3 linked regions of the Homo sapiens genome follow. The protein of the gene in region 2 interacts with the protein of the main gene of each other region in a pairwise test. Each region holds a gene or a part of one and is shown on either strand. Other genes may lie near its edges.

Evidence for each region. The genes of interacting proteins can lie anywhere in the genome.
Region 1: the proteins of RTN3 (region 2) and RMDN2 interact in binary tests that used the Homo sapiens proteins (3 or more experiments, as listed by UniProt).
Region 3: the proteins of RTN3 (region 2) and UGCG interact in a two-hybrid assay, tested with the Homo sapiens proteins (one study listed by BioGRID).

The regions. Positions count from the first base shown.
Region 1 is NC_000002.12:37,970,286-37,977,312, reverse strand, and holds part of RMDN2 (regulator of microtubule dynamics protein 2), read right to left. Parts: intron 3,274-7,027; coding exon 3,099-3,273; intron 2,102-3,098; coding exon 1,999-2,101; intron 1-1,998.
Region 2 is NC_000011.10:63,712,496-63,719,522, forward strand, and holds part of RTN3 (reticulon-3), read left to right. Parts: intron 1-6,206; coding exon 6,207-7,027. UniProt on the Homo sapiens protein: May be involved in membrane trafficking in the early secretory pathway. Inhibits BACE1 activity and amyloid precursor protein processing. May induce caspase-8 cascade and apoptosis.
Region 3 is NC_000009.12:111,920,813-111,927,839, forward strand, and holds part of UGCG (ceramide glucosyltransferase), read left to right. Parts: intron 1-2,036; coding exon 2,037-2,139; intron 2,140-3,964; coding exon 3,965-4,066; intron 4,067-5,571; coding exon 5,572-5,684; intron 5,685-6,660; coding exon of another isoform or gene 6,661-6,822; exon of another isoform or gene 6,823-6,979; intron 6,980-7,027. UniProt on the Homo sapiens protein: Participates in the initial step of the glucosylceramide-based glycosphingolipid/GSL synthetic pathway at the cytosolic surface of the Golgi.

The DNA of each region.
Region 1 (7,027 bases), on a different chromosome or scaffold from region 2:
TTTGTCGAATAGAAAAGGGGGAAATGTGGGGAAAAGAAAGAGAGATCAGATTGTTACTGTGTGTAGAAAGAAGTAGACATAGGAGACTCCATTTTGTTCTGTACTAAAAAATTCTTCTGCCTTGGGATGCTGTTAATCTATAACCTTACCCCCAACCCTGTGCTCTCTGAAACATATGCTGTGTCCACTAAGGGTTAAATGGATTAAGGGCGGTGCAAGATGTGCTTTGTTAAACAGATGCTTGAAGGCAGCATGCTCGTTCAGAGTCATCACCACTCCCTAATCTGAAGTACCCAGGGACACAAACACTGCAGAAGGCGGCAGGGCCCTCTGCCTAGGAAAACCAGAGACCTTTGTTCACATGTTTATCTGCTGACCTTCCCTCCACTATTGTCCTGTGACCCTGCCAAATCCCCCTCTCCGAGAAACACCCAAGAATGATCAATAAATACTAAAAAAATTTAAAAAAAAAAAGAAAAAAATGTATTTAATATTGATGAATGTTGGAACACTTTACATAGATATACTTGGATTTTCTCAGTAGATATGAAAATAAATCCCCTTGTTCTCCTTGGTTAAGTTTTTATTTATGTTGAAATTAATACATCTCTTCTCTAGAATTCTGTTTTGTATATGGTCTGCAAACTGGAATGCTACAGAAAAACTCCACAAAGCTGATGATGAATATGCAAACAAGAGGGGGAAGCCCTCTCATCCTCCTCCCACTGGGGGAAACGAAAGCACAGAGGTCATTCAGCAAATGAATCTCCAAGTGGAAAAATATAATTACAAGGAGTTTGGTAAAACTTTCTACTTGGAAATAAAAATTACAGAGAACTAGACTGGGAAGAAATCTTTCTTGCTGTGTCTTCCTCTTGCTATCTTTTCTAGAAGAAAAGCCTGGAAATGAGAAGCCTTCGGAATAAATGAAGAATTCAAAAGATTTTGATGTCAAAGTACTATGCTGACATTCAGAGAGATGGCAGGTAGGGGCTTTTGCAAGGACACATTTTGACATCCAGTAAGAGTCAAGGTGAGGTATAAAAATAACAGTTTGATATTCTATCTATTTAGTTGTTCTTGTTGTGATGAAAAATTTCAAAAACTTGTAGAAAAGTATAGATGTCAGAATAATGAACCAACATGTAATCATCATTCAGCTTAGACAATTATCAAACAGAGTTTTTAACAAGGTTAATCTTGTTTCATCAAGATACATTTGGAAAAAACATTAAAGTCTGCGAGTTTATTCTTCGTAGTCCCTAGAGTTCTACATTACAGGAAGTAAGATGTGTTACTTTAACTGTGGTTGACAACTGCTGAAGACACTTGTCCTCTGCCTGTTATTGTTTCTCAAACACTGCCACTACATTTCTTGTCTAAGTTTTATAAAGTTAAAAGATGAAATTTAAGTTTTTTTCAGTTACCTATTCTAATATATTCAAATATTTCTGAAGAACATATACTTTAGCCCTAAAATGCCTTTCTGTTCTGAGAGTGTACATTTTTTTGTACCATAATATATTAAAATAGATTAAACATACTGGTTTTAGCTAAGATAATTTAGCTTTAGTTAACATTCACTAGTGATTTACTATAGATCTTTTTTTTTATTACACTTTAAGTTCTTGCATACATGTGCAAAACATGCAGGTCATAGGTATACACGTGCCACGGTGGTTTTCTGCACCCATCAACCCGACATCTACATTAGGTATTTCTCCTAATGCTATCCCTCCCCTAGCCTCCCACCCCAAGACAGGCCCTGTTGTGTGATGTTCCCCTCCCTGTGTCCATGTATTCTCATTGTTCAACTCCCACTTATGAGTGAGAACATGCAGTGTTTGGTTTTCTGTTCTTGTGTTAGTTTGCTGAGAATGATGGTTTCCAGCTTCATCCATGTCCCTGCAAAGGACATGAACTCATCCTTTTTTACGGCTGCATGATTTACTATAGATCTTAATTGCTACTTGAGAATAATCTTTACAAAATGCTTACCAATATTAGCATAATGTTTCTTTTCTTGTGTGTTTGTAGATAGTTCATACATGTCTCCATAAGCACGAGCAAATCGCCACATAAACTCTATTTCATCTCTAAACTGAAAAGAAAAGATGGAGTTGCCTGTTAAATTAACTTGGTAACTTGTCTATTCTATTCTTGTTTTCTACTGCAACTTTTTAAAAACTTAGGCAGGTAAACTGGTATTTATAGATTATTGAATCTATGTATATGCATATTTCGTGTGAAACATTTTTAATCCAAATACTCATGGCTAAGAAATATGACCTAATGTAGTGTTACATTTGGATCTTAAAACCAATTAATATTATCCAGACACTAGCTCCATCTATGCAGAGAAGAGATTTGATAGGCACCAAAATCTAGAAATTCTTCCTGAGCTGTGGCATCCTTTTCTTCTTTTCCTTTCCAAGTTATCTATTATCAATATAATGAGCATCTCAGTTAATATCTGTAAATTGAAAATGCATATACTCAAAAGAGCAGTCACTTTTTTTACTCAAATTACCTAAATATAATCCTGGAGAGCTATCAAGTTTTAGACAATGTGTTTAGAGTTGCTAAATCCTCAGACAAATAGAGATTTATTTCTCCATGGGACACTGCAAACTTTTAATTTTTAATTTTATTTTATTTTATTTTATTTTTTTTAGTGGTGGTGGTAAGAGCTCTGGACAGGCTTTTCTTATTCAGACCCAACACTAAACACTGCAAAATCAACAAATGACCATTGGTAGAAATAGCTTTGAATACCCATATCTGTCTCAAAATATTTGTTAAATATATAAATTAGTAAAAAAAAAAAATCAAATAAAAGTAAATCTGCGTAATTATAGCTCTGGTTCTCATTTTTATGACCTTAGAGTCTAATAAACTTTTACATTTACTTTTTTAAAATTTTATGCATCTTAAATAAAAAATAAATTTTAAAAAATTTTAGTCATTTTATAGAGAAATTTTACATCAATCATCAAAATGTGGGAACCATGACACAATTATTATAGTTATAACTGAAACAGATGGCAGATTAAATTAAAAAATGGAACTATACGAAGTGCTATTGTTATGTCTCTTACCTTTTCTTTGTGGTCACGAAGTAGTTCAAAACTCTCCGACTTGCCAGACTCACTCATACGTAAATGATCTACCTTCTGAAGAAGGACATCTAAATTTAATTCCTCTACACGTGTGTTAAATGCCTTAGGGACTGGAAAACTCTGTTCTTCTGTGTCAGTATTAGCTGTAATATACCTAAAATCGCAGAAATAATCATCAACTCCTTTGAAAGTTAAGTATAATAGCCAGAGCATTCCTTTTAAAATGCAAGTCAAATCATGCCCCTCTTATGCTTGAAACTCTGCAGTGGCACGTGCTTTCACTCAGAAAAAGCTCCAGTCCTAACAGAAGTCTACAAGTCCCTGCGCAATTTGCCCACGATCTCGTTACCTCTTTGATCTCATTTCCTACTACTCTTCTTATTCAAATACACACAGGTCACCTAGCTGCTCCTTCAATATTCTAATCACGTGCCTACCTCGGAACCTCCACTTGCTGTTCCCTTTAATGAAACGCCGTTTCCTTAGACAGCCACATAACTCACGCCCTCACCTCCTTCAAGTCTCTGCTCCAATTTCATTTTCTCAATGTGGCCCATCCAGACCACTCTAATACCTCAATCCCCACATTCCCTTCATCTCTAACCTCCCTCATAATGCTTTTTTCTTTTCCCATAGCATGTATTACCTTCTAACATACTGTATAATTTACTAATCTACTACATGTGCTGTTTGTCAGTATCCTCCCCAGGAGAATGCAAGCTCCCTGATGGTAGGTTCATTAACTGATGTATCAAGTGCCTAGAACAGCACTATTCACTGAATTTGCTGAATGGATGATACAGTTGTAGGAACTCAGCAGGCACTCAAAACTGTGTGTGTAAACTCACAAAAACACATATTTATAGTTCAAGATGATCTAAGTTTAAACTTTAACGTGGTTTTTAAAAATTAATACTATTGCCTACATTTCATTTTTGCCAGCAAACAATACAAACAACTTATTTTTATTAATTCAGACTCTGCCTGTTCTAAAAAGGTTTTAAGGAGGTATACAAGGATATATAACATATAAGAGAATAAATTAGAAATAGTGAAAAAAGACAAAGGCCAAATGTGAATGAAGTCAATATAAAAAACACACAAATTTTAGATAGCTATACCTTTGCTACAAAGGACACAAATGTTCTTCATTTTCTAGCATGCAATGCAATCAGCTTCACAACTTGCAGCTCCCGTTAGATAGAAACAAACAAAAAAACTAACAAAGCAAGTTCTTAAATTTCTTTCATATGCCTTACAAAGAAGATACTGTATGAACTGATCTCCCACTTCTTCAATAACATTCTTTACTAACGGAAACTCTACTCTTCCAATTGCTCAAACCAAAAAACTTGGAATCATCCTTGATGCTTTTTTCTTTCTCTTAAGCAATACCCAGTCTGTTAGCAAATCCTGCTGGTTCTATCGTCAAAATACATCCAGAATCTAGCCACTTCTCCCCACCTCTCCCCACTACCACCTTGGTCTAAGCCTCCATCATCTCATCTGGATTACTGCAATGACCCCTTATCACACCTCTTTGCTTTAGTCCTTGACCCTTATATTCTATTCTCAACAGAGTAGCAAGAATAACTCAGATCACGTCACTCCTTTGCTCAAAACCCTCCATCAGATGTCCAAGTCAGAGTGAAAACCTAAGTCCTTTCAGGGGTCTACAAGGCCTAACATAATCTGGCCAATACCTCTGGTCTTATCTTCTATCACTTTCCTGCTTGCTCACAGCATTCCAGAAACTCTAACTTCCTTGATATTCCTTGAACATATCAGTCATGTTCCTGCTTTAAACCCTTTGTATTTTTTCTTTCTTCTGCCTGGTATGTTCTTCTCCAGATATTCATATAGTTTATTTCTTTGCATATTTCATATCTTTGTTCAAATGTAATCTTCTTATTATTGCAGATGTTATGATTATTTACATAAAAATAAAAATTCTACAAATTTTGATTAATAGGAGAGTATAGCAAATTGGCTGAATATAATATTAACATATGAAAGTCAGTTTAATTTCTACATATCAGCAAAAAACTACAAACATAATTAAATAAAATATTCAATTTGCAGTGACCTCAGAGAATATCAAATGGCTAGGAATAAATCTAACAAAAGATATGTGAAAATTCAATGGAGAAAATTATAAAAGCATATTAAAAGATGTTTCTAAAATGACCTAAATTCATGGAGAAATATATCACGTTCATGGTTTAGAAGACCCAATATCATAAATATGTGAATTCTTTCCAGGTTAATCTATAGATTCAATGCAATTCAAACTTTATAAGCCTAATAGGAATTTTTGTAGAATTAAATAAGATGATTCTAAAAGTTATATGAAAAAGCAAAGAGCCCAGGACAGCCAAAGCACTCTTAAAGGGAGCAAGGAGAGAAGACTTACCCCACCAGATTTTAGGACCTACTATGAAGCTATAATAATTAAAGACAGTGTGGTATTGGTACAGCAATAGATGAGTGAATGATAGAACAGAGCCTAGAAACAGACCCACATGCATATGAAAATGTGGTACATGGGAGAGTTGGCATGTAAGATCAGTAGGAAATTCAGGCATTCAGATGGGAAAAATTGTTATCTCTATGGAAAAAGATGAAATTGAAACTCTACCTTATATTTTTAAAAAACATAACTGGATAGTTTAAGAAAATGTTATATATTTTAAAAATCTAGTACAAAATACAGACGAATATATTTTAGTCCTTGGGGTAAGACATATGAAATAGACATTATGGATCATCTATTCAAAATTAAGCGTCCAGAAATAATTTCTTAAAATTATGATCAGTTTATTTTGATAAGAGTGCCAAGACAGTTTAGCGGAGGAAACAATACTCTTCAACAAATAGTGCTAGAACAAATGGATAAGCAAATGCAAAAAAGGAACTCTCACTTCCTATCATATATAAAAATTAACTCAAAATGTATCAAACCTAAGTGTAAGAGCTAGAACTATAAAATGTTTGACAACATTTTATATGTATATGTTTTCTTTCTCATAAGAAAACATAGGAGCAAATATTTGTGATCTTGGATTAAGCAATGGTTTCTTAGACATGACATCATAAGCACAAGTGACAAAAGAAAAAAATGAATAAATTAGACTTTATCAAAATGAAAAACTTAGGTGCTTCAAAAGATACCATTAAAAAAGTGAAAAAACCCACAGAATAGAAGAAAATATGTTATGAATCATATATCTGATAAGAGACTTGTATACAAAATATATATAAAACTCTTAACAATTCGACAATAAAAAGACAAATAATTCAATTTAAAAATGGGCAACTCTGCAAATAAAAACCACCAAATTATGTAATTTAAAAGATGGAGCTTTATGGTAACAAATAATATACAGCTTTTATAAAGGTATAAAGCTATTATCTTTATGTTATTCTTTATAAGAACAAAAACTCAAATGTTGCTATAGCCATTAAATGAATTACATCAGAATTATGTATCTACTGCAACTTGCTCTCTATCTCTTGCTCTAATTCTGTCTCTCCCATGCACACATAGAATAGTTTTATTGTGAAATCTGCCATATATCCAAATAATTAGGCTTATTCAAATTCTTCTAAAGAATTACTAAAGATGGAATGCCCCTCAGGTTTATTTTATAAAACTAATATAACTGACACAAAAACCAAACATGAATATTACAAAAAATAAAAATTATAGGCCAATCTTACACATAAACATAAATGCAAAAATCCTCAATAAAATATCAATCAAGCTATTGCAACAAATATAAAATTATGTATTACAACCAAATTGAGATTATACTAGAAATTACAAGCACAGTTTGACATTAGACAATTTCTCTGGCGCAACAGATGAGACCTATCTGATCAATTCAGTCATTACCAAAAAAATTTTT
Region 2 (7,027 bases):
TTTTTTTTGAGATGGAGTCTCACATTGTTGCCTGGGCTAGAGTGCAGTGGTGTGATCTTGGCTCACCGCAATTTCCACCTCCTGGGTTCAAGCGATTCTCCTGCCTCAGTCTCCCGAGTAGCTGGGATTATAGGCATGCGCCACCACACTCGGCTAATTTTTTTGTATTTTTAGTAGAGATGGGGTTCTCCATGTTGATCCGGCTGGTCTTGAACTCCTGACCTCGTGATCAGGACCAGCTCGGCCCCCAAAGTGCTGGGATTACAGGCGTGAGCCACCGTGCCTGGCCGACTTCGAATTTTTTAATAAGAATTTTTTGGCCGGGCGCAATGGCTCACACTTGTAATCCCAGCACTTGGAGAGGCCGAGGCAGGCGAATCACCTGAGGTTGGGAGTTCCAGACCAGCCTAACCAACGTGGAGAAACTCCGTCTCTACTAAAAATACAAAATTAGCTAGGCCTGGTGGCGCATGCCTGTAATCCCAGCTACTCCGGAGGCTGAGGCAGGAGAATCGCTTGAACCCAGGAGGCAGAGGTTGCGGTGAGCCAAGGTCACACCATTGCACTCCAGCCTGGGCAAAAAGAGTGAAATTCCATCTCTCAAAAATATAAAAGAATTTTTTATTTGGGTCTAAAAATTTAGAATTTAGAATATGACTACCAACTTAATTTCTTAGTCTTTGTTTCAGATAATATATCTCAGTGGAGTATTTAGAGTTTAAGAAGATGAGTAATCATGGAGCTGAGTACTTGATAAGTTTGAGAACATGTTCATGATCATTGTGGGGATATGACATTTTTTACCTCTTACCATATATCGATTCTCACCCACCCCCCATTTTTTGAAACAAGGTCTTGCTTTGTCACCCAGGGTGGAGTGCATGGCTCACTGCAGCCTCGACCTCCTGGGCTCAAGCAGTCCTCCCACTTCAGCCTCCCAAGTAGTCAGGACCACAGGTGTATGCCACCATGACTGGCTAATTGTTTAATTTTTTTGTAGAGATGGGGTCGCACTGTGTTGCCCAGGCTGGTCTCGAACTCCTGGGCTCAAGCTGTCTCCCTGCCTTGGCTTCTCAAAGTGCTAGGATTACAGGCATGAGCCACCACACTCAGCTGATTCCCTTTTTAGTAAATCTACTAGATCTATGACTTTATTTGTTAATAATTAGAGTAGCACCATGTTTTTAAGTGATTAGAACTCTTGAAAATGAATATCCACACTAAATTCCATTATAGCAAAGAACTAATTTAGAAAATGTTCATAATGAGAGTTTTGATGGCGATTTGTTTTGAGTAGTGTTGAAAGGCTCTTAGAGTGCATGTGAAGGGATGAATCTTTTGAGAAAAGAAAGATAGTAGACATTTTCTGAGACATAAAATAATCCAGATTTATTCCACCAGACAGCTTTACAGTGTATAGTATTTTAAGAGCTAACTGCCTTCAGATTCACTGGACTTTTCTGTCCTTTTGCCAGGTACTGACTTGGGCAACAGCAGTGACTACAAGTGCCATACTGACCAATTGGAAGAGTCTTTGCTTATCGGAGCTGTTCTAAAAGGCTTATTAGTTTTTGGTCTTCATTCTATTTAATGTTTTCATGCCTTTATAAACTTTTTACTTCCAGCCCAATTTTTCCCATTGTCTTGGTACAGGTCAGCTGTGTCCAAGTTTGTTAGGGTTTCAGCTAGCCAAAAATGGTATTTTCATTTGCTGAAATTCTAAACAAAATAATTAAAGTTAAAGCACAGATGATGATGCTACCTTATTTTTCTACATGTGGGAAAGCTTGATTGATAGTAATGATTAGCGCCTGCATCTCACAATCACTGAGAAATGAATGCAGCACTGAGCTCTGTTTGCCCTCTAAGCTTGTCCCCAGAAAAAACAAGATATACCCTAAATAGTAAGTTATAATATTTTTATTAGGGAACATTATTAGAGTTTTTTTTTAATATATCTCGTAGCCATGTCATATTAATCTTTTTTCTTTTTTCCTTTTTTTCATTTTTCTCTTTTCTCTTCTCTTCTCTTCTCTTTTCTCTTTCTCACTCTGTCACCCAAGCTGGAGTGCAGTGGCATGACCATGGCTCACTGCAGCCTTGACCTCCCAGACTCAAGCAATCCTCCCACTCCAGCCTCCCAAGTGACTGGGACTACAGGCACGTGCCACCATGCACGGCTAATTTTTCTATTTTTTGTAGGGGCAGGATCTCAGCATGTTGCCCAGGCTGATCTTGACCTCTTGGACTCAAGCAATTTTCCCTCCTGTGCCTCCCAAAGTTCTAAGATACAGGCATGAGCCACCACACCCAGCCTAGAGAATCCTTAATGTTTGAAGTCTGTCAGGCTATCATGGTGCTCAGCAGAGGATGTGTTAGTATTCTGAGAATAGGACTTCTAACTTTAGTTTTACCTGAGATTATTCTACACCTAACTTGAAACTTTTGGAGTATTAAAGGTTCAAAGAAGTTAAGAGAAAAGCAAAGCTTGATAAACTGACCAGTTTGTGTCCTGCTAAAGCATAGACAGTTTTACCATGCTCTTCCCAGTGACATGAATATTCTTTGGTTAGCATTCAATTTGGTTGCTTTCTTTTTTGTTTAATCAGGCACTGTCACCACTGTATTATTGTCATCATTTTGCTTATTGATTTTGCTTATTGTCTGCCTTCCCCTCTGTGTTGTAAGCTCCATAAAGGCAAGAAATTTTTTCTGTTTTATTCACTGCTTTAAGCCCAGTTTCTAAAACAGTGTCTGACACGTGGTAGGCACTCAATAAATACCTGTTGAATTATTACTAATTCATTTTGTAGACTTTCATCTGTAAGATGACAGATCTGAATCATCTGAAATCTCCATCTCCATAAAACATATAAGCTGGCTGGGTGCAGTGGCTCATGCCTGTAATCCTAGTACTTTGTGAGGCTGAGGCGAGCAGATTGCTTGAGCTCAGGAGTTCGAGACCAGCCTGCGCAACGTGGTGAAACCAGCTCTCTACTAAAAATACAAAAAATTAGCCAGGTGCGGTGGTGCACGCCTGTAATCCCAGCTACTTCGGAGGCTGAGTCAGGAAAATCGCTTCAATCTGGGGGGCGGAGGTTGCAGTGAGCCGAGATTGCACCACTGCACTCCAGCCTGGGCAACAGAACTAGACTCTGTCTAAAAAAAACACACAAAAAACACACAAAAAAACATATAAGCTGAACCTCCCCTGTGGGGTGGAGTCAGTTTGACTCACCTCAGAGTTGTTTGAAGAGAGAGGTTCCCAAACAGTTTTACCATAACCTTAGTTCACTGAATGTTTTGTGGTAGAAACACTGACTAGTAAGTTCAGTAACAATGCATGGCTCAGATTGTGGAATATTTCTGATTTAAATGTAATCTGTAGTACTTCACACTTCAGATTTTTGAACCTTTTAACCTACAATACTGGGCTTCATTTCTGTTATGCCCTAATCTAGTCATGCTGAATATCCATACTGTATAATGGTAGATGCAAACCATGTTTACTAAATTAGAACTACATATGAATTACAGTTTACTTCAAGTGTTTTGTTTTGGTAATATAGCTTTGCCACCAAGCTTTTACAGTTTTCCTTGAATGTACAAAGACTTTTTATTCTAATAACCAGATTACAGTTATACTATTTCTAAAGCTCAGCTCTTATTACATCAAGTTTCAGTGATGTGTTGAAGTAGGGGAACTTTATATGGCATTTCAAAACATTTTCATAATACTGGAATTTTATTTATTGTAAAATATTTTTGTCTTTAATAAAATAATTTTGAATGAAGTCATAATTTTGCTTTTATCTGGTATTTGGATGTTTACATGAAAAAGGGAACATAAGCTGAATAAAGGTAATCCCAAAAGAACTTCTCTGTCACATTTTCCCAGTTACTCATTCATGCTCAAGGCATTGCTGTCCTGAGCCTACTTAGGTCTCAGCTGACCAAGCTGAATCTTTGATTCACTTATTTGGGGCTATTTATTTAAGACCCACTTTGTCCCAGCTCCAAAGATACAACAGTATGCAAGAAAGACAGCGCCCAGGGTGGGCGTGGTGGCTCATGCCTATAATCCCAGCACTTCAGGAGGCCGAGGTGGGCAGGTTGCTTGAGCCCAGTAGTTTGAGACCAACCTGGCAATGTAGTGAGGCACCAGGTCTGTAGAAAGTTTAAAAATCAGGCCAGGCGCGGTGGCTCATGCGTGTATTCCCAGCTCTTTGGGAGGCCGAGGCAGGCGGATCACGGGGTCAGGAGATCGAGACCATTCTGGCTAACACGGTGAAACCCCGTCTCTACTAAAAATACAAAAATAAAATTAGCCAGGCGTGGCGGCGGGTGCCTGTAGTCCCAACTGCTTGGGAGACTGAGGCAGGAGAATGGCGCGAACCCGGGAGGCGGAGCTTGCAGTGAGCAGAGATCGCGCCACTACACTCCAGCCTGGGCGACAGAGCAAGACTCCGTCTCAAAAAAAAAACAAAAAAAAAAAAAAAAGAAAAGAAAGTTTAAAAATTAGCCAGGTGTGGTGGCATGTGCCTGTGGTCCCAGCTACTTGGGAGGCTGAGGTGGGAGGATAGCTTGAGGCCAGGAGGTCAAGGCTGCAGTGAGCCACAATTGTACCACTGGCACTCCAGCCTGGAGGACAGAGGGAGACCCTCTCTCAAATACAAACAAACAAATAAATGAAGTAAGAAAGCACCAGCCCTTGGGATATTTGTTTTGATCCTTTTCCCCAGTAAAAATTTGTTAGAGTGGGAAGTTAGAAAACAGTGTGGTAGATTGATGGCTACTATGGTATTAACTGATAAGACTTAACGTATTACTTTGAGAAGGATATTTTCTATTTTAAAAGTAATTCTGGAGTTAACTCTGTCTTTTTTTTTTTTTTTTTTTTTTTTTTTGAGACAGTTTCACTCTTGTTGCCCAGGCTGGGGTGCGATGGCGTGACCTCAGCTCACTGCCATCAATGTCTGCCTCCTGGGTTCAAAGGATTCTCCTGCCTCAGCCTCCCGAGTAGCTGGAATTACAGGTGCCTGCCACCACGCCCGGCTAATTTTTTTGTATCTTTAGTAGAGATGAGGTTTCACCATTTTGGTCAGGCTGGTCTCGAACTCCTGACCTCAGGTGAGCCACTGCACCCAGCCAAGTTAACTCTGTCTTAACCAAAGAAATCAATTTGCACAGTACAATATTGATTTAAATGACAAGTTAGTACAAGAGATTTTGGAGGGGCCAGGCGTAGCGGCTCACACCTGTAATCCCAGCACTTTGGGAGGCCAAGGCGGGTGGATCACTTGAGGTCAGGAGTTAAGAGACCAGCCTGGCCAACATGGTGAAACCCCATCTCTTCTAAAAATACAAAAATTAGCTGGGCTTGATGGTGCCTGCCTGTAATCCCAGCTACTTGAGAGGCTGAGGCAGGAGAATGGCTTGAACCTGGGAGGTGGAGGTTGCAGTGAGCTGAGATTGCGCCATTGCACTTCAGCCTGGGCAACAAGAAAAAGACTCCGTATCAAAAAAAAAAAAAAAAGATTTTGGAGGGGGTCCACCTTTTTCAGTACCCTTTAGTTTAGAACATCACAGCTATTTATTTGTACATGGGACAGATTCTCCCTGTGGATAGAATAGAATAATTCTAGTCTCATTTTTCAGATTCAGGAAGGGCCCATTGCATCTCCTAAAAATCAAAAAAGTCTGGCCACTAGTTTTTTTCCTTTTCAGATTGTGAGACTAACAGATTTATAGAGGCAGTCTGTGCTCTGAATTGTTCAGCTTACAGATTGAAGTCTATCAACCCTTTATAGTATCAGGTTATTTGTTTTGTATAAATTATTTTGCTTTTGTTGATTAGCTCTATCAAAGAATAAAAAACCTCCCAAGATTTCTCAATCTTACCGCCCTTCTTTATGCTTTCTCTGTACAATGGAAAAGTAGACCAAAAGTATTTGTCATGAAAATTTTTTATCATTTGCAGTTTGTGGCATGATATGGCTTTTCTGTTTCACTGTTGGCAGTTTTATGCATGTCCTGTAGGATAACTTGATCGTTTTGTTACATATTTATGTGTGTATATATACATCCTGTGTGTGTATATATATATTTATGTAATTTAAAAAATAAAAAGCATGCTGCTTGGCTTGGCTAGCTAATGTGTAATTGTACCTGGTAAACAATTTTTTTCTTTGAAATTCTGATCATAGAGGGATTGAGCTCTCTTTGCTCTGATGAGCCATCTTCAGAAATTATGACTTCTTCCTTTCTTTCATCTTCTGAAATACATAACACTGGCCTTACAATACTACATGGAGAAAAAAGCCATGTGTTAGGGAGCCAGCCTATTTTAGCCAAAGAAGGAAAAGACCACTTGGATCTTCTAGATATGAAAAAGATGGAAAAGCCTCAGGGGACCAGCAACAACGTATCAGACTCTTCAGTTTCTCTTGCAGCAGGAGTTCATTGTGACCGTCCTTCTATTCCAGCCAGTTTCCCAGAGCATCCTGCTTTTCTCTCAAAGAAAATTGGTCAAGTGGAAGAGCAAATAGATAAAGAGACCAAGAACCCAAATGGGGTATCAAGTAGGGAGGCTAAAACTGCATTGGATGCTGATGACAGATTCACTTTGCTGACAGCCCAGAAACCACCTACTGAGTACTCTAAGGTAGAAGGCATTTATACATATTCTTTGTCTCCATCCAAAGTTTCAGGAGATGATGTTATTGAAAAGGATTCCCCTGAATCACCATTTGAAGTAATTATTGACAAAGCAGCATTTGACAAAGAATTTAAAGACTCATATAAGGAGAGCACAGATGATTTTGGTAGCTGGTCTGTGCACACTGATAAAGAATCATCCGAAGACATTTCAGAGACTAATGACAAGCTTTTTCCACTGAGAAATAAAGAGGCAGGACGTTACCCAATGTCTGCATTGCTCAGTAGGCAGTTTTCACACACAAATGCAGCACTGGAAGAGGTGTCCAGATGCGTGAATGATATGCATAACTTTACTAACGAAATACTG
Region 3 (7,027 bases), on a different chromosome or scaffold from region 2:
CTCTTGAGTTAGTTAGCTTTGTTATGTTTTCATGGACATAATTAACCTCCCTTCTGTGCTTAAAAATGTTCGACCAGTTTTATGTTGTCGTCGTTTTGTTTTTTTTTTGAGATGGAGTCTCGCTCTGTCGCCCAGGCTGGAGTGCAGTGGCGTGATCTGGGCTCACTTCAGTCTCCGCCTCCTGGGTTCAAGTGATTCTCCTGCCTCAGCCTCCCAAGTAGCTGGGATTATAGGCGCGTGCCACTACACTTGGCTAATTTTTCGTATTTTTAGGAGAAACAGGGTTTCACCATGTTTCCCAGGCTGGTCTCAAAAACTTGACCTGAAGTGATCCACCAGCCTTGGCTTCCTGAGGTGCTGGGATTACAGGCATGAGCCACCGTGCCTGGCTGTTCAACCAGTTTTAGAAAAGATTTGGTAGGAAATTTCTTCATTGAGTCAACATGAATTTATTACCACTTCTGGGGAAAAAAATCACTACTTAGAATACATATCCTACAAATAATAGAGTAGTATTTTTGTATGTTAAGGACAAATACTTAAAAAATTTAGTTGTTGACTGAGCATGGTGGCTCACGCCTGTAATCCCAGCACTTTGGGAGGCAGAGGCAAGCAGATCCCAAGGTCACGAGTTTGAGACCAGCCCGGCCAATGAAACTCCGTCTCTACTAAAAATACAAAAATTAGCCAGACATGGTGGCGGGCATCTGTAGTCCCAGCTACTCCTGTTTGGGAGGCTGAGGCAGGCGAATCGATTGAACCTGGGAGGCGGAGGTTGCAGTGAGCTGAGATCATGCCACTGCACTCCAACCTGGGTGACAGTGAGACTCTGTCTCAAAAAAAAAAAAAAAGTTGGGTTGTTAATGGAAATTTAGGGGTTCAGTTCAGGATTTTATAAATCTGGCTGCATGTCAGATCACCCCAGAGATTCTGACTCAAAAGTCTAAAATAGGGTCCAATTCTCTTTTTAAAATAAATGCCCCAGGGTGATTTTTTTTTTTTTTTTTTTTTTTTTTGAGGCAGGGTCTCACTCTGTTTCCCAGGCTGAAATGTAGTGGCGCAGTCTTCGGCTCACTGCAGCCTCAACCTCCTGGGCTCAAGCAATCCTCCCACCTCAGCCTCCCAAGTAGCTGGGACCACAGGCATGCCTCACCATGCCCAGCTAATTTTAAAAATTTTTTGTAGAGACAGGGCCTCGCCTTTTTGCCCAGGCTCCTCTCGAGCACCTAGGCTCTAGCAGTCTTCCCACCTTGACCTCCCAAAGTGCTGGGATTACAGGCATGAGCCACCGTGCCCAGCCCCAGGGTAATTTTGTCACAGCTGGGCAAGTGTTAAGAAATGCCTTTCTTAATTTACTGTTAAAAATCTAAACATAGCACTGGGCAAAATAAAGTTGTAGGTATTTTCATAGTTACAAGGCTAAGCATGCATTTCAAGATCGTAAATGTCCATTCAAATCAAATTCTGTTTTGTTTCAAAAAGTTATGAAACAAAAAAGGGTAATCTTACTTTGTCCTTTTCATGTGATGAATTTGGAAGGGCCCTTTAAATTTATTATAATGGGATTTTATATGAAATTTGTTGCACCTTCATGAAATAATATTAAGTATAGAGACAAAGCTTCTAGAGAGAGGTTGTGTTTATTTTGCTTCCTTTTGATGTCACTTTTTACTCTGCTAGGCACCCTGTGAGCAGTTAGTAAATCTTCAGTAGTGATGGCCATGGACAAGCTTGAGATCCAGTTAATGGAGATTAACTAGGAGATTCCTATCTGGGAATGGCAAGACTGCAGTTGTGGGCACTGCCAGTCTCTTCCTTATTTATTCTGCTTGCAGATAGGCTCCTAATTAGAAGCTTCACTCCATTAAAGCAACACTTGTTATCATAAGTGTTTGCATCCATTGTGAATGCTCTCTTTTAAAACTTTGCATAATACAGTTGCTTGTTTTTTCCTGTGCTTTTTGTTCAATCAATACATGCTAGTAAGTGCTTATTTTTTTAAAGAATTTAATTTACATACAATGCTTTTTGACTAGTATGAAGTGCTCCTTTGTGTACAAGATCATGATGATCCAGCCATTGATGTATGTAAGAAGCTTCTTGGAAAATATCCAAATGTTGATGCTAGATTGTTTATAGGTAAGTAACAAATTCTGTAGTAACCATTTTCCATTGATAGTATTAAGTATCAGTAATCTCTGCATTGAACTGAAGATTAAGGTGTTAGCCATGTTTGTTTTAAACATGTTTGTTGGAGTACTGAGAGGTGTTTACGTCCTTTTGAGAAAAGTTATAAAAACAAAGGTTTTTTTTTTTCATATCTGAGATGAACAAAATCACACACAAAATAATATTTTTCCCATTAATCAGACATGAGGGTCTGTTATTTTTTGTTTCTTCAATATTTTAAATGTGTGGCCTTTTCTGTATCTTACTGACTATAATTGGAGTGAATGATAGAATTCACTTTTATTACATTACAAGAAGGGTATTTTTCCAAAAGCCTACAGGCTTATTTGAAAGACTTGTAGAGGTGTGTTTGCCATTAGTGTTTTTTTTTTTTTAACATAGAGCTGATGTGGTCTCTCTAAAAAACCAGTAAGTCGTATAAAATGATATCAGATCTTTGCTATTTGAAGATCGGGCAATGATTTAAATTTTTTATTAGCTTAAAATGCAAATTTGAAAATTAATATAAGTGTAGCATGCCTACGAATTAATCAGGACCATTACAAATCTATCAGCTCATGGTCAGAGATGCTCATTCTTCACATGTGCTATCTTAAATTATTTACTGTCATATATTTATGGGGTTTTTTTGGTTTTTTTTTTCTTTGATACGAATTTTTTGCTCTTATCACCCGGGCTGGAGTGCAATGGCACAATTTCAGCTCAGTGCAACCCCTTCCACCTGGGTTCAAGCAATTCTCCTGCTTCAGCCTCCTGAGCAGCTGGGATCACAGGCGTGCATCACCACGCCCAGCTAATTTTTTTGTATTTTTAGCAGAGACAGGGTTTCACCACGTCAGGCTGGTCTCGAACTGCTGACCTCAGGTGATCCACCTGCCTCGGCCTCCCAAAGTGCTGGGATTATAGCCTCCCCAGTAGCTGGGATTACAGTCAGGCACCACCACGCTCAGCTAATTTTTTTGTATTTTTAATAGAGATGGGGTTTCGCCATGTCATACTGGTCTCGAAGTCCTGACCTCAGGTGATCCACCCCCCTCGACCTCCCAAAGTGCTGGGATTACAGGCGTGAGCCCATGGTGCCTGGCCATGTGTGTTTACATTTAATAAACCTTTATTAAATATAATCTTACTGTATTTATGAATTTATACTGTTTTAATTATAGCTTCAAAATAACGCCTGTAGCTTTTTCCCTTAGGATTATTTTTTAAATTGACAAATAAAATTTGTATATATTTTTGGTGTACAGCACGATGTTTTGAAATATATATATATGTACACATTGTGGAATAGCTAAATTAAGTTAATTAACATATGCATTACCACACATATTTATTCATGGTGGGAAATCTCTCTTAGCAGTTTTCAAGTAAACAACATGTTGTTATATACTTTCTCATGTACTTATACTTTATTTGTGGTGAGAAATCTACTCTTAGTCATTTTCAAGTATACCATACATTGTTGTTACCTATAGTTGCCATGTTGTACAATTGCCATTAAATATTGACTCATACTTAACTACTAAGGCAAGGACTTAAGAATTAGAAAAAGTGAAACAGTGAATTTTCAAAGATAAATGATACAGTTTTCCTTTTGAGAATGGACAGTTTTTTCCTAAATATATTATTATGAATAATAGAGAATGTTAAATAATATGAAAGTATGTTTAATTATTAAATATGCAAGTATTCTCATTTCTATCATGTATCTTTATACTATAAAATATTTTTAATGTTGCATAAATCTTTTACTACTGTACCTTTACATTTTTAGGTGGCAAAAAAGTTGGCATTAATCCTAAAATTAATAATTTAATGCCAGGATATGAAGTTGCAAAGTATGATCTTATATGGATTTGTGATAGTGGAATAAGAGGTGAGGTTTTTTTCTTATTTATTTTATAAAACTATTAATTTGAAGATAAAATGCTAAAAGCAATCTCAGATACATTCATGAGTTCTTTTTATTTGCCTAAAAGAGTAATTTATTTCATCATCATTTCATGGTAATATGTCCAGTTATGCTTACTAAGATTTTGATTTTTTTAATCCTAAACTAGAATGTTACATGTATTAAAATGTTTTCATTTTGAAGAGAAAATTTCAACCATTAAATTAAAAATGGTTGTGGTTCATTATATAATCTGCAAGCTTTCCCATGGGTGTAACTTTTCCCTTGTTTGCCTGACACTTATCTTTAATGTGTTTCGGCTTGCGTAATACACCGTCTCACAAAGGGACAGAAATTAATAGGTGCATATTTTACTAAAACACATACACTTATCGGACTATACACATGACTTTTTACTTAAATGATTTTAGCAAGAAGCCTTTCATATACTGAAATTATAACTTGCATTTTCGAACACTCATAATAGTTTCAGTGTTCTATAATATTTTCTTATATTCTAATTGCCTTAAGCTTCTCAACCCCAATACTGTTCACATTTTAGGCTTTGTTGTGGGAGCTGTCTTGTAGGATGTTTAGCAGCATGCCTGGTCTCTACCATGAGATGCCAGTAGTACCCCCTTCTCAGTAGTAAAAGCAAAAATATCTTCAGATGTTGCCGGATGTCCCCTGTGGGGCAGAATTGCCCCCAGTTGAGAAGCACTGACCTAGAATGAGTATTTAAGGTCCAAATACAACTTTTCTTTATACGGTAGATTTAGTTCTTAAAGACTTGGAGGAAATGAAAAATAAGGTCATGTAAAAATGATATGAGATGTTTGCTAAAGATTGGGCAATAATTTAAATTTTTTATTAGCTTAAAATGCAAATTAGAAAATGAACATAAATGTTGCACTCCTATGAGTTAATCAAGACCATTACAGATCTATCAGCTGGTCAGAGATGATGTTCATTCTTCATATTTGCTATCTTAAATTATTTACTATCATATGTTTTTCAGTGTACAGATCTCTGTTCAATATAATCACGTTCCATTCCTGTGTGGAAATCTGATACTCACAGAGAAAATAGTCTCATTTCCTATGGTTGGAGAGTAGAGAAGCCAGCACGAGAACTGAGGTCCTTTAGCCTCTGCTCCTGAGCCTTTTCCACTAGGACAGATTGTCCTTATTCCAAATTAGAAGTTCCAACAGGGGGTAACTTTTTCAAAGTATATTCTGCCTCTGGTACATAGTAGGTATATACTGGGCTAAAAAATGTATAAATTAGCTTTCGAGAATTAGGCCCTTTTGAAATTTTGTATTCTCCTCAGAAAGGTGGTTGAGATTCATTTTATTAGATCCATATGTTTAAAATAATGTATTTTATTAAGAATGTAATAACAATTCACAAAATATATTTTATATTAATGGGCATTCTACTAAAAACAAATTTTCTTTTCTCCCCCTCTCTGCCTTTTTTTTAAATTGTAGTAATTCCAGATACGCTTACTGACATGGTGAATCAAATGACAGAAAAAGTAGGCTTGGTTCACGGGCTGCCTTACGTAGCAGACAGACAGGGCTTTGCTGCCACCTTAGAGCAGGTGAGTATGGTGGTTATAAATCATGTTCATAGTATCAGACCCCTCATTTCCCAGAAGCTTGAGACTATGGGAGCTGGAATTAGGTATCTCAAGTTAACTGTATTAAGTCCATTTGGGAACCTGCTGTGTTCTAGAAGCCCTGAGTTGAGAGCAGCTGTTTTCATTAGTGAGGAAATTCTTGGGACCCTGACTGTACCCTGGCAGTGAACAGCTGTGCGCAGGAAATGCCTGCGGTCTTATTGCCAGCTGAACACAGTCTAACCTCTTGCCTTGTAGTATTCACTTCCTGTTCTAGAGTTCAGTTCTTTATATTGTTCTTTCAAACATTCGATCTGAAAAGAACCGCTGGCCCCCTCCCCCCAGCCTTTTTTTTTTTTTTTTTTTTTTTTTTTTTGCGACAGAGCCTTGCTCTGTTGCCCAGGCTGGAGTGCAGTGGCACGATCTCGGCTCACTGCAACCTCCACTTCCCAGGTTCAAACGATTCTTCTGCCTCAGCCTCCCAAGTAGCTGGGATTTCAGGTGTGCTACCACACCTGGCTAACTTTTGTATTTTTAGTAGAAATGGGGTTTCACCGTGTTGGCCAGGCCGGCCTCAAACTCCTGACCTCAAGTGATCTGCCTGCCTCAGCCTCCCAAAGTGCTGGGATTACGGGCATGAGCCACTGCGCCCAGCCCTCAAAAGAACCTTTTTAAAATACCACAAAGTATTTCAAATATACACAAAAGAAAATGTATTCATACAAGTCCTTATAAAACCTATTTGATGTCCTTTTAAAACATATTTCTAATAATTACCTGAGAAACTTATGTTTTCATTTTATTTTTTCTCCAACTTAGAAATAGTAACATCCATAGGAAACTATAAATAATGGAAAAGTATAAGATGCAAAAAAACAAAAACCAACAACCTAGAACCCTAACAATTACAGGAAGTTTATGGGGTTTTTTTGTTTTTTTTGTTTTGTTTTTTTTTTAGATGGAGTCTCGCTCTGTCGCCCAGGCTGGAGTGCAGTGGCGCGATCTCGGCTCACTGCAAGCTCCGCCTCCCGGGTTCACGCCATTCTCCTGCCTCAGCCTCCTGAGTAGCTGGGACTACAGGTGCCCGCCACCATGCCTGGCTAATTTTTTGTATTTTTGATAGAGACAGGTTTTCACCGTGTTAGCCAGGATGGTCTCGATCTCCTGACCTCGTGATCCACCCTCCTCTGCCTCCCAAAGTGCTGGGATTACAGGCGTGAGCCACCACGCCCGGCAGGAAGTTTCTGGTTTTAAAAATAAACATTGTATCATTTGGACACTTTGGAGTCTTTATTTCCCCCACCACCCCCTTCTGGGCCCTTTAG